Linked DNA regions of Homo sapiens. The protein of the gene in region 1 interacts with the protein of each later gene in a biochemical or structural test. Each region holds a gene or a part of one and is shown on either strand. Other genes may lie near its edges. The genes, in order: MARCHF8, VANGL2 and SREBF1.

What was found.
Region 2: the proteins of MARCHF8 (region 1) and VANGL2 form a complex in vitro, tested with the Homo sapiens proteins (one study listed by BioGRID).
Region 3: the proteins of MARCHF8 (region 1) and SREBF1 form a complex in vitro, tested with the Homo sapiens proteins (one study listed by BioGRID).

Annotation. Positions count from the first base shown.
Region 1 is NC_000010.11:45,458,756-45,462,501, forward strand, and holds part of MARCHF8 (E3 ubiquitin-protein ligase MARCHF8), read right to left. Parts: intron 2,657-3,746; coding exon 2,476-2,656; intron 1,123-2,475; exon of another isoform or gene 985-1,122; intron 513-984; coding exon 365-512; intron 1-364. UniProt on the Homo sapiens protein: E3 ubiquitin-protein ligase that plays several important roles in innate immunity and adaptive immunity.
Region 2 is NC_000001.11:160,398,601-160,402,346, reverse strand, and holds the start of VANGL2 (vang-like protein 2), read right to left. Parts: upstream 1,784-3,746; 5' UTR 1,478-1,783; intron 1,173-1,477; exon of another isoform or gene 1,018-1,172; intron 1-1,017. UniProt on the Homo sapiens protein: Involved in the control of early morphogenesis and patterning of both axial midline structures and the development of neural plate. Plays a role in the regulation of planar cell polarity, particularly in the orientation of stereociliary bundles in the cochlea.
Region 3 is NC_000017.11:17,830,311-17,834,056, forward strand, and holds part of SREBF1 (sterol regulatory element-binding protein 1), read right to left. Parts: intron 1-3,746.

The DNA.
Region 1 (3,746 bases):
ATCCTCCATCCCTCAGCCTCAAGTATCTGGGGACCACAAGCCTGCACCACTGACCAATGGATTCACAACTCATCCAATGTTGCTCAGTCAAAGAAGAGTGGAAGACAGTGTCCAGCTACTTCCTGCTTTTATAGGATGTAGTTTGCGGAGATTCTCATGCTCCAGAATATGAACTCTCCTGACTGGGTTTCAAAAACTACCACCACAGCAAAAGAAATGCCAAAAAGGAGGCTAGTGCCTCCTAACTGATGTCCCTCCTCCGGAAACCCAGACGTTTTTGGCTAACTGGAAAATCCTCTGACCCCAGGACTCCTGTGAGCTATCCCGGCCCCCATGCTGAGCTTGCTCCAGCCTGAGAACTCACCTGTTGCCTGCCCCTGCTTGATCTCCTCAGCAGTACGGTCAATGAGCACATACAAGGACCAGACCACACATGTGATGGCAATGACGTGGAATGTCACTGAGCACATGATCTTCCTGCGCTCGCTGGACGTCATCTGCAACTTCTCCCACTAGAAAGACAACACAGAGTGTGAGGCTCAGGCTTCTGGGGAAGGGCTCCGGTGGGGTGAGAGCATTGTAGGTAGGTAAGATTGGCTTTCCACCCCACTTCTCCCTTCCCAAACTAGATGCATTCCCCCAAGTATTGTTCTCCTAAAACCACTTGGCTTCAACCAGGTACCAGGTGCAGCCAACTTTCTATGCAATGAAAAGAAGCCAGGATCAAGATGAATGCAGAACTACCATCAAAAATCCCCTTGTCTGCTTATTCTTGCAAGCAGACATAAGATGGCCTGATAAAGAATTCTATGATTTCAGTCCTAATGAAAACAGTATGTTGGCCCAGGACCCAGGTACTACGTTTTAAGTCTCCCTGATGTGCTGACTGGCATGGACGAGCGGAAGAAGAGGGTTGATGATGCCACAACACACTAGCAGATGGGTCACACTACATTGTGAAGGTGAATGGCAGAAGACGCTCACTCTTTGGTCCTTGCTACTTTGGCAGCAACAGCTCGAAATCGACGCTAAGAGTTCCTGGTACAAGCAGACTCTGCTAGTCCCATCTCCTCTAGGAGCTCATTAATTTACTCCAAATAGCCAGACTTTCTTTTTCATTTACTGGTTTCCGAATCAGGAGAAAACACATAAAGGTAGAGAGAAAGAACAATGTGTAAACACTCTGCACATATCCTTTGCCAACCCTAGTCACAGCCTCTTTCCAGATGAGTCTATGCAGGGTAGTTGAAAATAGAGCCTCAAGGACTTCCCATGTTGAGAGATTAGCATAGAGTAGGCACCCAATAAATTACAAGGTTTCTACTGGGCAAAACATTTTTTTAAGCAGTTTGCACAAGCCTTCTCTAAATCTGGTTGTTTTCTGCTGGGATTTTATACACTAGCAAGTTCCCTGGTCTTCCTACCTATAATACAGAGTCAGTGCCTCAGTGCCCCATGCTCCCTGCTACTTCCTACAACGCACGTAGCTTGACACCCTGTCAATGTTCACCTTCACCTTTCTAGGGTATGCTTTACTCCACAGACAGCCTGACCTCTCTAAACTCCTTGCACTCTGCCTCCAAATCCTAGTGATCCTTCAAGAACTGCTCTAAAACCCAAACACCCTATGAGGCTACCATCGCTCCACTTCCCCAGCACTCTAGCTCATAATGAGCATTTCCTTTTCTGAATGACTGTTATGCTCTACCAGCACACCATTTAGCATTTAATTGGCTAGTATTTGATTATGTGACTTATCTTGCAATTTATATATTAATGTTCTGAGATAGGAACAGTTTTTTATTCTTCCAGACAAAACCTTTTGTGCTGGGCATCTAGAGAGATATATGAAACAGTCAAAATTTAAACAGGAAGCCAGTGTGGCGGACAAAGCTCCTCTCAGAGGGAGCAGTGACATGGGCCTCCAGACAGCTGCGTGTCATGCAATGCCTGTGGGTCCTTTCTGAAGACAGTTGCACATCACGCAACGTTTGTGCTTCCTTTCTTTTCCCTATCCACCTACTCACACTCCCATCCAGCAAATAGTTATCATGGGTGTATACAAATAAATTTACTGTATGCTACACTGTGCTGGGTGCTGGGGAGATACTAATCTCCAACAGACAGTCCTAATCAGAGAAGCAGGACGTCAACAGTTAATATGTATAAAATTAGGTGCTAAGATATGTCACAAACAGTCTGTAGTCAAAGGCCAGAGGACTGACACCGACAAGCAAGCAGTCTTACTTTGAAGGGAAAAGAAGGATTATGAATGGTCAGAAAGAGCTTCTTCCTGAGAAGAGGGACTTGAAAATCAGCACCAGAAACAACAATCTCTACAATGCAAATGTAAGCACCAGCCCCAGCTTTTTAAGGAAATGAACGCAGGCAAGCCATGACCTCATGATCTGAGACACCAGCTTTCTGGGGGTCACTGGTTTCAGGAAGGGTGAAGCATCCCTTCCTCCCACGTACTTTTCTCAGTGGCTTCAGCTTGGTCTCCATGATGAACTCATACTTGCAGAGCTCGCAGCAGCGCGTGTCGGAGCTCTTGATCCACTGCTGCAGGCAGGCCTGGTGCACGAAGTGGAGGCTTCCTGTGCAGTGGCAGGGGGTGATCAGGGGGCTCTCATCATCTCCTTCACAGTGGCAGATCCTATGGTGGAAGGAAAACCTGTCATTCCAAGGACAGTCCCATGACAGGGAAGCTGACACTTCAGTGGCAGGTTAATCCCCCCAAAGGAAACTCAGAAACGAACATTACAGAAGTGACTATGGGCACAAAAACATACAAACACAAACGAAAACAATCACTACAAACTAAAAATGTCTAGCTTACCGCACCAACATGGAAAGTCTGGAGGGCATTTGGCAACAGAAAGGAAAAAACGATGTAAGAAATGACAAAGCTGTCATTTTTTGGTAAGAAATAAGAACTTCACTGAAAGATGAATTTAAAGCAACATGGAATCATTTTCCAGAACATAAGATGGTAAAATAATTAGAGGGAAAATTTCTATGTAAAACAAAACCTGCATTCCAACATCCAAAAATACCAGTGACCTTAAATGACGTTTGCTTTTTAGCTATAATCACTGACTTTACCTTCATACCCCACAACTACACATTTCTGTCGTCTCTCAGCAAGTAAACAAAGATGACAGTACCTCTCTCCTAGACCTAAAAAACTCACCATTACAAGATGCTGCAATTTCATCTCTTTTTCTTGGGACCACTAATAGCAATAAGTGAGAAATTAATTTGAAAGCACTCTCTATTTCCAAGGAAGTATGCAACAAGGTGTAGCTACTAGCCTGAAGGAACTTAACAGGCTTTTAAGAAACAGAGGGGTCTTTTCCAGCAGCTAGAGAACAGGTTGGGGCACTCGTCCTGGAAGGAGCCAGGCTCTCAGGCTGTTTTAGTGAGGGGATCTCTGATCCAAATGTTAGAAATGATGACAGCTGGCACTAAGGAGCGGAGACTGGAGAAAGGTCAGAATGAGGAGGGCACAAGAGTCATGACAAAAAGTGAATTATGGAGGCCAGACAAGGATGCTGCACAAGGGAAGATAAAGGGGGGAAACAGAGTTAGGATGGGACATAGGTGGCTACACCTCAGTTAAAAAGAAGGAAGGAAGGAGCTACTGGAGAACAGCCAGTCCCCACACACCTTTTGGGGGTAGGTAGGGAGCAAGGGTTAAAAAAGAGGCTGGGAGATGCAACAATGCTTAAAATCTGGACCATCAG
Region 2 (3,746 bases), on another chromosome or scaffold:
CAAGAGAACTGTGGCCTGAAGCTTTTACCTAAGGCTGGGAATCCAAGAGTGTAGCTTCTCCAAGCGCTGGAACCCAGCCTATGACGATGGGGGAGGAAGTTCCTCTTATTCTTCTCCCTGACCCCGCCAATCTTCCAAATTCCTCTAGGACTACAACCAGACCCCTTGTTCCCTATTCCCCACAACACACGCCCTCTTCCAGAAAAACCCATCCCCCAAAAACAGGCACTTCATAAGACAACTCATTCCCTCCCACCCATAGGTCTCAGATACTTAAGGTACTACCCCTAAACCCAGGCGAGGCCATCCACGAAGTCTCAAAATCCTGCAGACAGCCTTCTTTTCGGGATTTTTGCCAGGAAAATCTGCCTGCAGAGTCTAGAGGTACCCCCGACACACACTCAGAAACATACATACCAGCTAAGGCAGGCACACACATTGATACCCATCAACACAGGTTACACACAAGAGAACACAGATTCACACCCCTTCCCAGTACACAGGTGCACACACACCTATCCACATACACTCCATTCTGCTCTTACACACCCACCTTCCTCAGTACCTACACACCTCTTTCCCGTGAACCCCTCTCCCAGTACACACACATAGACATACACGCCCTCCCCTAAGTATACATATAAACACATATCCAAACACACAGCAGATGCATGGTCAGCCGCTCCCTGGGTGCACACACACTCAAGCACAGAAAAACACCTACACATCCAAACCAGGGGCCCACCTGCAGGAACATGCAGCACGTCAAGGCGTGCACACACACCAAAACAAAGAATCATGCACACGGATCCTCCACCAACCCTTCAAAACTCACTAACGCAGAGCCCACAGTCCCCCAGATGGGTAAATATGAGTGGGGAGAGGGATGCCAGCGCCTGTCCCCTCGGCCCCTATACACAGTCTACCGCCTCCAGCCCCATCCTCGGTCTGTACATACACCCTATCTACTCTGCCCAACCCGCCCCCCTGACTCCACTCTACACCCTTAACGCATACCTGCCTCCGTCCCTCCCCACGCTCCTGAGGGGTGTATGCACCCCAAAACACCCTTGGCTTCCAATACCTCCAGACTCCGATCCTTCCACGCCTCTCCCCCCACCTCCAACACAAGCTCCCCGTCTCCGGCTTCAACCGGCTCCCCTGGGATCATTAAGGCCCCCGCCCGGGCCCAGGAAAGTCCCCGGCTCTCCAGGCCTGGGCTCCGCCCCCTCCCCACGAGCCCCTTCCCCTCCCCAAAGTTGGGGGGGGTACTCCGCTGTGCAGTGGGGAAGCGGACCGGAAGGGGGTTGCCCGGAGTCCAGCCCCCCTTCCCCCATAAGCCACCCCGCTCGCTCTGGGGTCGGGCACCCCCTGGCCCCTTGCATGATTTTCCTCCTTTTCCATTTCTTTTTTTCTCTCTCTTTCTTTCTTCTTTTTTTTTCAAACTTTGCCCGCGCCCCCGCGGCCCGGCACTCACCCGCCGCTGCGAACTGCCGGGTGGGCTCCGCGGGCGCCCCGCTCGGCCCGTCGCCTTTGTATCCGCAGCGCTCCGGGTCGCTCCGAACTCGGCGCTCCTGGACAGGCAGCGCGCGCGATGGGGGATGTTGAGGGGGGGGTTCTTGAGTCTGGTCACCCCCTGCTCCGTCCCAGACCGCTGCCTCTTCCCCCTCAAGGCCCCGGGGGCTGGGGGCCAGGGGGGAATAGGGGGCGCTCAGGCTCCCATGGCGGGACCAAGGATCAAGGAATCAAGGATCAGGAATCAGATCGGGAGCCGGCGGCGCAGGGGGGAGGGGGCGGAGGGGGAGGGGATGAGGGTGGGGGGTGCAGGGGGCGGGGGAGCGCGAGCTCCCGGGTGCCGCCTCCCGGCTGTTCCCACAGCCGCCGCCCCTCCTACCGCCGCGTCCATTGTCTGCGGCCCCGCTCTTCCCGGAGTCGCCGCTCCCCCAGCCCTGCGCCTTCAGATGCCCAGCGGCCCTCCCCGATCCTGGGAATCCGCGGTGGGGCTGACACTCGGGTCCCGAACGGTGGGCAGGGGAATGCCTCGATTCTTGGACTTGGCCCAGCCCGCAGTCCCTCCTGGGGCTGTCTTCCTGGACCCCTCCTGTCGGAGAAGGAGCCCCCAGATCCCTGGGGCTGGCCATATTCTCTTTAGGGCCACGGACCCGACTACACAAAATCCAATGGAATCTGGGACGTGGGAAGATTGATTTTTTTTTTCCCCCTAGGGGTCCGAGAAGGGAGGGTCATCCCTGATTTTAATTAGTGGCGAGAGGCGCACGCCTCTTCCCATGCATACGGGGATTTCCCTGACACCATCACCACCATATCCCCTCCTTCCAAAAATAATTTAATTACTTGGAGTTCTAGCTGCGAGCAGCGACCGCCCCAGTCAGTCTGGGACGCTCCCTCATTAACACATTTTTCCTCCCCTCTGGTTTGAGTGTTGGGATTAATTACAAAGGGAACCCTGCCTTAGGGAAGAAGGGGAGGAGGAAAAGACGCGGGCGCCTGGGAGTTTGAATGGCAGAGGAGAGGGGGCCTTCTCCCAGGAAACCTCCAAGAGGAAAAATGCCTTGGCCAGTTGGGTCCCCAACCCCAAGCAGGCAGATTGTCCATCCCAGGAGTTTCAGATACTTTAGAGTTGAAGGTGCCACACAGGGATTGTAGGATCTCACAAAATATCCTACACGTTTGGGGCATTTGTGCCTCCCAGTATGCCAAGAAACCAGTTAGGGTTCTTTTACATGTGACCCTACAAGAGTGAACCCACACCGTAAAAGCCTGGGCTGTGGGAAGTCCATGTTCCCCTTGGAGTAAGTGAAAGCAGTATTCAATTATCATTAATGTTATTGCCGTGCAACCCGCCACTTAGAGTAGTATCATTTCAAAAGCATCTTCACATACTTCTCCCTAAGCAGGCCAAGGCCTTTTCAATATCTCAGCCTCCTTCAGTTTCCAATCCTGGCACCTGCTTGAACAACCCTGTGATTAAGGAATCCCAGAGAAAGAGACTCCCAGCCTCTGTTCCTCACTTGTTTGGGAATTTTTGCTCCTCCCTGATGAAAACTATTTCCTGAGACCTAATCTCACCCCTTTTGATGGTTCATTCTAACCTGTCCAAAGATGAGGACAGAACCAACTATGCTGCATTGTTCAAAGATGCAGAACAGTAAAACACACTTCCTTTCTCCTTTGCCCAAACTCTGTCTTTCCTCATCCCCTCCTCCAGTAGTATGGGTAAGCAGGTGACTCAGCATCAAGACTACATGAAATATGCAGAATCATCATTTCAGGTACCCAAGTCCCTGCATGCGTCCAGGCACTCATTCACCTTGTGCCTATCATGTGCAGGCACTGGGCCGCACTGGGGCTCCTGGCAGTGACCACGACCAGGTGTATGAGGGAGTGGCAGGAGAGCTGGGGAAGGGTTAAGGGAAGTAGGGAGGACATGGGTGTCCCCAGCCCTGCCCCAAAGCACACCCCAGTGCTAGGCAGCTAGTGTGTAATTTGACACAGAGTCGGGGCTGCCGTGGCACTGTCTTGACTCTCAGGCAGATTTAGTGTGAATTATCTTCACATGCTGCTAGCCTGTTTCACAGACCCCAAAATGGCCCAAAGAACTGGAAAAAGGGCTTCTGATGCCAGAATTACAGATAATTCCATAGTCTGGCCCCACTGAAAGCTTGAAACCTAAGTCAGGATGTTAACAGACAAGGCTTCCCAATTAACAGGTATCAGGCATCAGG
Region 3 (3,746 bases), on another chromosome or scaffold:
GAGCCACTGCATCTGGCTAAATGGTGATAATAATAACACTAACTGGCATTGGTTCAGGGCCTACTATGTGCCATGCACTGCTTAAGCCTTCACTCATCGGATCCCCACAATTCCAAGAAGCTGCTTTTAGTACTGCTCCCTTTACATTGTTAAGAACCTGAAGGTTCTTGGACTTGTCCAAGGTCATACAGTAGGGCTGCTTGTTAAGACCCCTGATCCCAGCCTTCTAGCTGCAGGGAGCACAGGGACCCCAGAGCCTGGCAGGGGCAGCATGCAGAGGCAAGGCCTGCTGGGAGACAGGTGCAGGGACGGGGAGTCAGTTAGGAAAGGAGCTCAAACAGGGTTCGGGGTAGGCCACAAATTCCCCCTAGGGGGATGGACCCCCAGCCCCGTCCCACCTCCCACAAGCCCCAACCCAGCAGGGGACCCACACCTGGAGCCAGTCTCAATGGCTCCCTGACCTCTCACCCCTGAGCCAGTTAAGGCTTTCCCCACCTCACCCCCGACACACACAGCCGCCCCTGTGGAGCACATGGTGCAGGCTGTCACACACTGTCAGTGCCCAGGGTCAAAAGGCATGTCCACATGGCCCGTGGCTGCTAGGAGACAAGGTCAGAGGCACTTCCTCTGGCCGGCCTGGGCTCCACCTGTCAGCAGGCAAAGTCCAGATCCCAGGCCTCTGCTGGCAGTGACTCCTGCCTGGAGCTGACCGGGTCACTCAGGATGTTTGTGTCCAGCTAGGTGAATGTTGGGCAGAAGGTAACTCCCAACCCGGCTGAGACAAGGGAACTTTATCTTGGAGCACTAGGGAGCCATGAATGGTTGGAGACCAGGGGAGTTCTGTGCTGTAAGCTAGGGCAGTAACTAGTCTAGAGCTGTGTTTTCTAAGGAGTGCCAGTGCTTGGTGGAACTAGGGAGAGAACTGGGGCATGAGATATCCTGGGGAGAGGTATGGGGTGGCAGAGCGGGCCCCCATTGTGCCCTACCAGGGCTGGCCTGGACCCAGCAAACAGCCAGACACATGACTAGAAGCAAGGCCCTGTTGTGGCTGGGCTGGGCATGCTGGGAGGGACATCAGGGCGGGAGAACTCTGAGAACGCACTGCTCGGGGCAAGGTGACACCCAGAAGGGCTTTCTGGGAAGCAGCCTCTGACGGGGCTTGGCAGACATCTGGGGTCCGACAGACAAAGAGCAGACATGACGGGGTCCAGGCATAGGAAAGAGACCCCGAGGCCCTGTTCCAGGCTCTTGGCCAGAACTCTGTTTCCGTCTGCCTCTTCTGCACTCATAAGCTTGTGCAAAATTGGATAAATTAATCCTCAGCAGGGAGGTGAAGACTGCCACGGGCTTAACAATAATCCCCAACACAGGTACAGGGCCATCTCCTGATCCATCCTCCCCCGACAGCTGCAAGGTACTCTGAGGCCCAGAAGGAGACAGGCTCACCTGAGGTCTTGGTGCAGATGCAGGACTCAAACCCAGGGACACTATAGCCAGGGCAGTGCCTTCACCCACAGATGCAAGGACTCATGGAGGCAGCTCCATCCCCAAATCCATTCACATGACAAGAGTTTGGCTGTGGCAGGCAGCAGGACCGGATGGGGCCCAAGGCCCTTGGCTGGCTCACCAGGGCTGGTTCCCAGTCTAATGACTCAAACACTGCTCTGGACTGGGATGGGGAGGTAGCCACATAGCCTCTGACCCCTCTGTGACCCACTTCCAGGCCCCCAGAGTAGCCCCTGTGGAGGAGCCTCCCTCAACCCCTCATCCCCATTCTTAGGAGCCCAGTGCTTAAGAGCTTAAGAGCTAGGCTCTGGAGCCCACAGCCTGGGTTTGAATTCTGGCTTTGCCATCATCTGGCTGTGTGATCTCAGGCAAATCACTTAACCTCTCTGGTCCTCAAGGCCGTCATCTTCATCATATGTCTACCTACTTGGGGTTGTCAGGGGATTAAGTGGGATTATCAACACACTGTCTGAAACACAGTAAGTACTCAATTAGTGTTTTCTGTTCACATTACGATCCTCCATCCAAGCAGCCAGAGGGAACTGAAGCTCGGTGTGCCCCTGCTCTGACCCCCGACTGTCCTCACATCTAGCCCAGCTCTGCACTCTGGCACTCAAGGCCAGCCTGGCCCCCTCTTATCCCTCATGTCTCTCAAGGGACCTGGCATTTCCACCCCCAAATCTTCAGACCTTATCAAACCTGCTCAGCTCCACTCCTGGTAGAAGAAGCTTCAAAAGCAGGCTCGACCTCTGACCAGCAATTCCCCTCCCAGAACCTCATCCTAGGAACACAGTGAGGATCCGGGCAAAGACTGGCCTCAGTGGCCAGGCACAGTGGCTCACGCCTGTAATCCCAGCACTTTGGGAGGCCGAGGCGGGCAGATCATGAGGTCAGGAGATCGAGACCATCCTGGCTAACACGGTGAAACCCCGTCTCTACTAAAAATACAAAAAATTAGCCAGGCATGGTGGCACGCACCTATAGTCCCAAGCTACTCGGGAGGCTGAGGCAGGAGAATGGTGTGAACCCGGGAGGCGGAGTTTGCAGTGAGCCGAGATCGCGCCACTGCACTCCAGCCTGGGTGACAGAGCAAGACTCTGTCTCAAAAACAAACAAACAAAAAAAAAAAAACAAAGAAAAAAACCGGCCTCAGTGTCCACTGCAGCAGTTTATAAAGATAAAACAACCTAGGTGTCCATCGACAGGGAATCAGGTGGGTAATAAGAGGAAACCTTACTGTCGTCTGGCTGTTGACATGGAACCAAGCAGATTCCAATCAGCTGTGAACCAATGGACCCTATTTTAATTTATAAAAATACAGATCCAGCCGGGCGCGGTGGCTCACGCCTGTAATTCCAGAACGTTGGGAGGCCGAGGTGGGCAGATCACAAGGTCAGGAGATCGAGACCATCCTGGCTAACATGGTGAAACCCCATCTCTACTAAAAATACAAAAAAATTAGCCGGGCGTGGTGGCAGGTGCCTGTAATCCCAGCTACTCGGGAGGCTGAGGCAGAACTGTTTGAACCTGGGAGGCGGAGCTTGCAGTGAGCCAAGATCGCACCACTGCACTCCAGCCTGGGCGACAGAGCAAGACTCCGTCTCAAAAAAAAAAAAAAAAAAAAAAAAAAAAAAATATATATATATATATATATATATACACACACACATACAGATCCACAGCTGCCCGGGGCTGGGAGCAGGAACAGGAACTGACTAAAGAAGTATAAGGGATCTCACTGTGTGATAAAAATGTTCGACAGCTAGTAATTGTCACACAACTCAAAAAGTTAACTAAAAATCATTGAATGATATACTAAAAATGGGTAAATTTTGTGATACATAAAGTATACCTCAATAAAGTCGTTTTTAAAAAATTGATGAAGGCCGGGCATGGTGGTTCATGCCCTGTAATCCCAGCACTTTTGAGAGGCTGAGGTGGGCAGATCACCTGAGCTCAGGAGTTCGAGACCAGCCTGGCCAACATGGCCATCTCTACTAAAAATACAAAATTTAACCAGGCGTGGCGGTGCATGACTGTAATCCCAGCTACTTGGGAGCTGGAGAATCTCTTGAACCTGAGAGGCAGAGTTTGCAGTGAGCTGAGATCATGCCACTGGACTACAGCATGGGCAAAAGAGCGAGACCCTGTCTCAAAAAAAAAAAAGTTTATGAAGAGTGTGCACCCATCCCCAAACACATATAAACACACAGAGAGAGAGAGAGAGAGAGAAGAAAAGC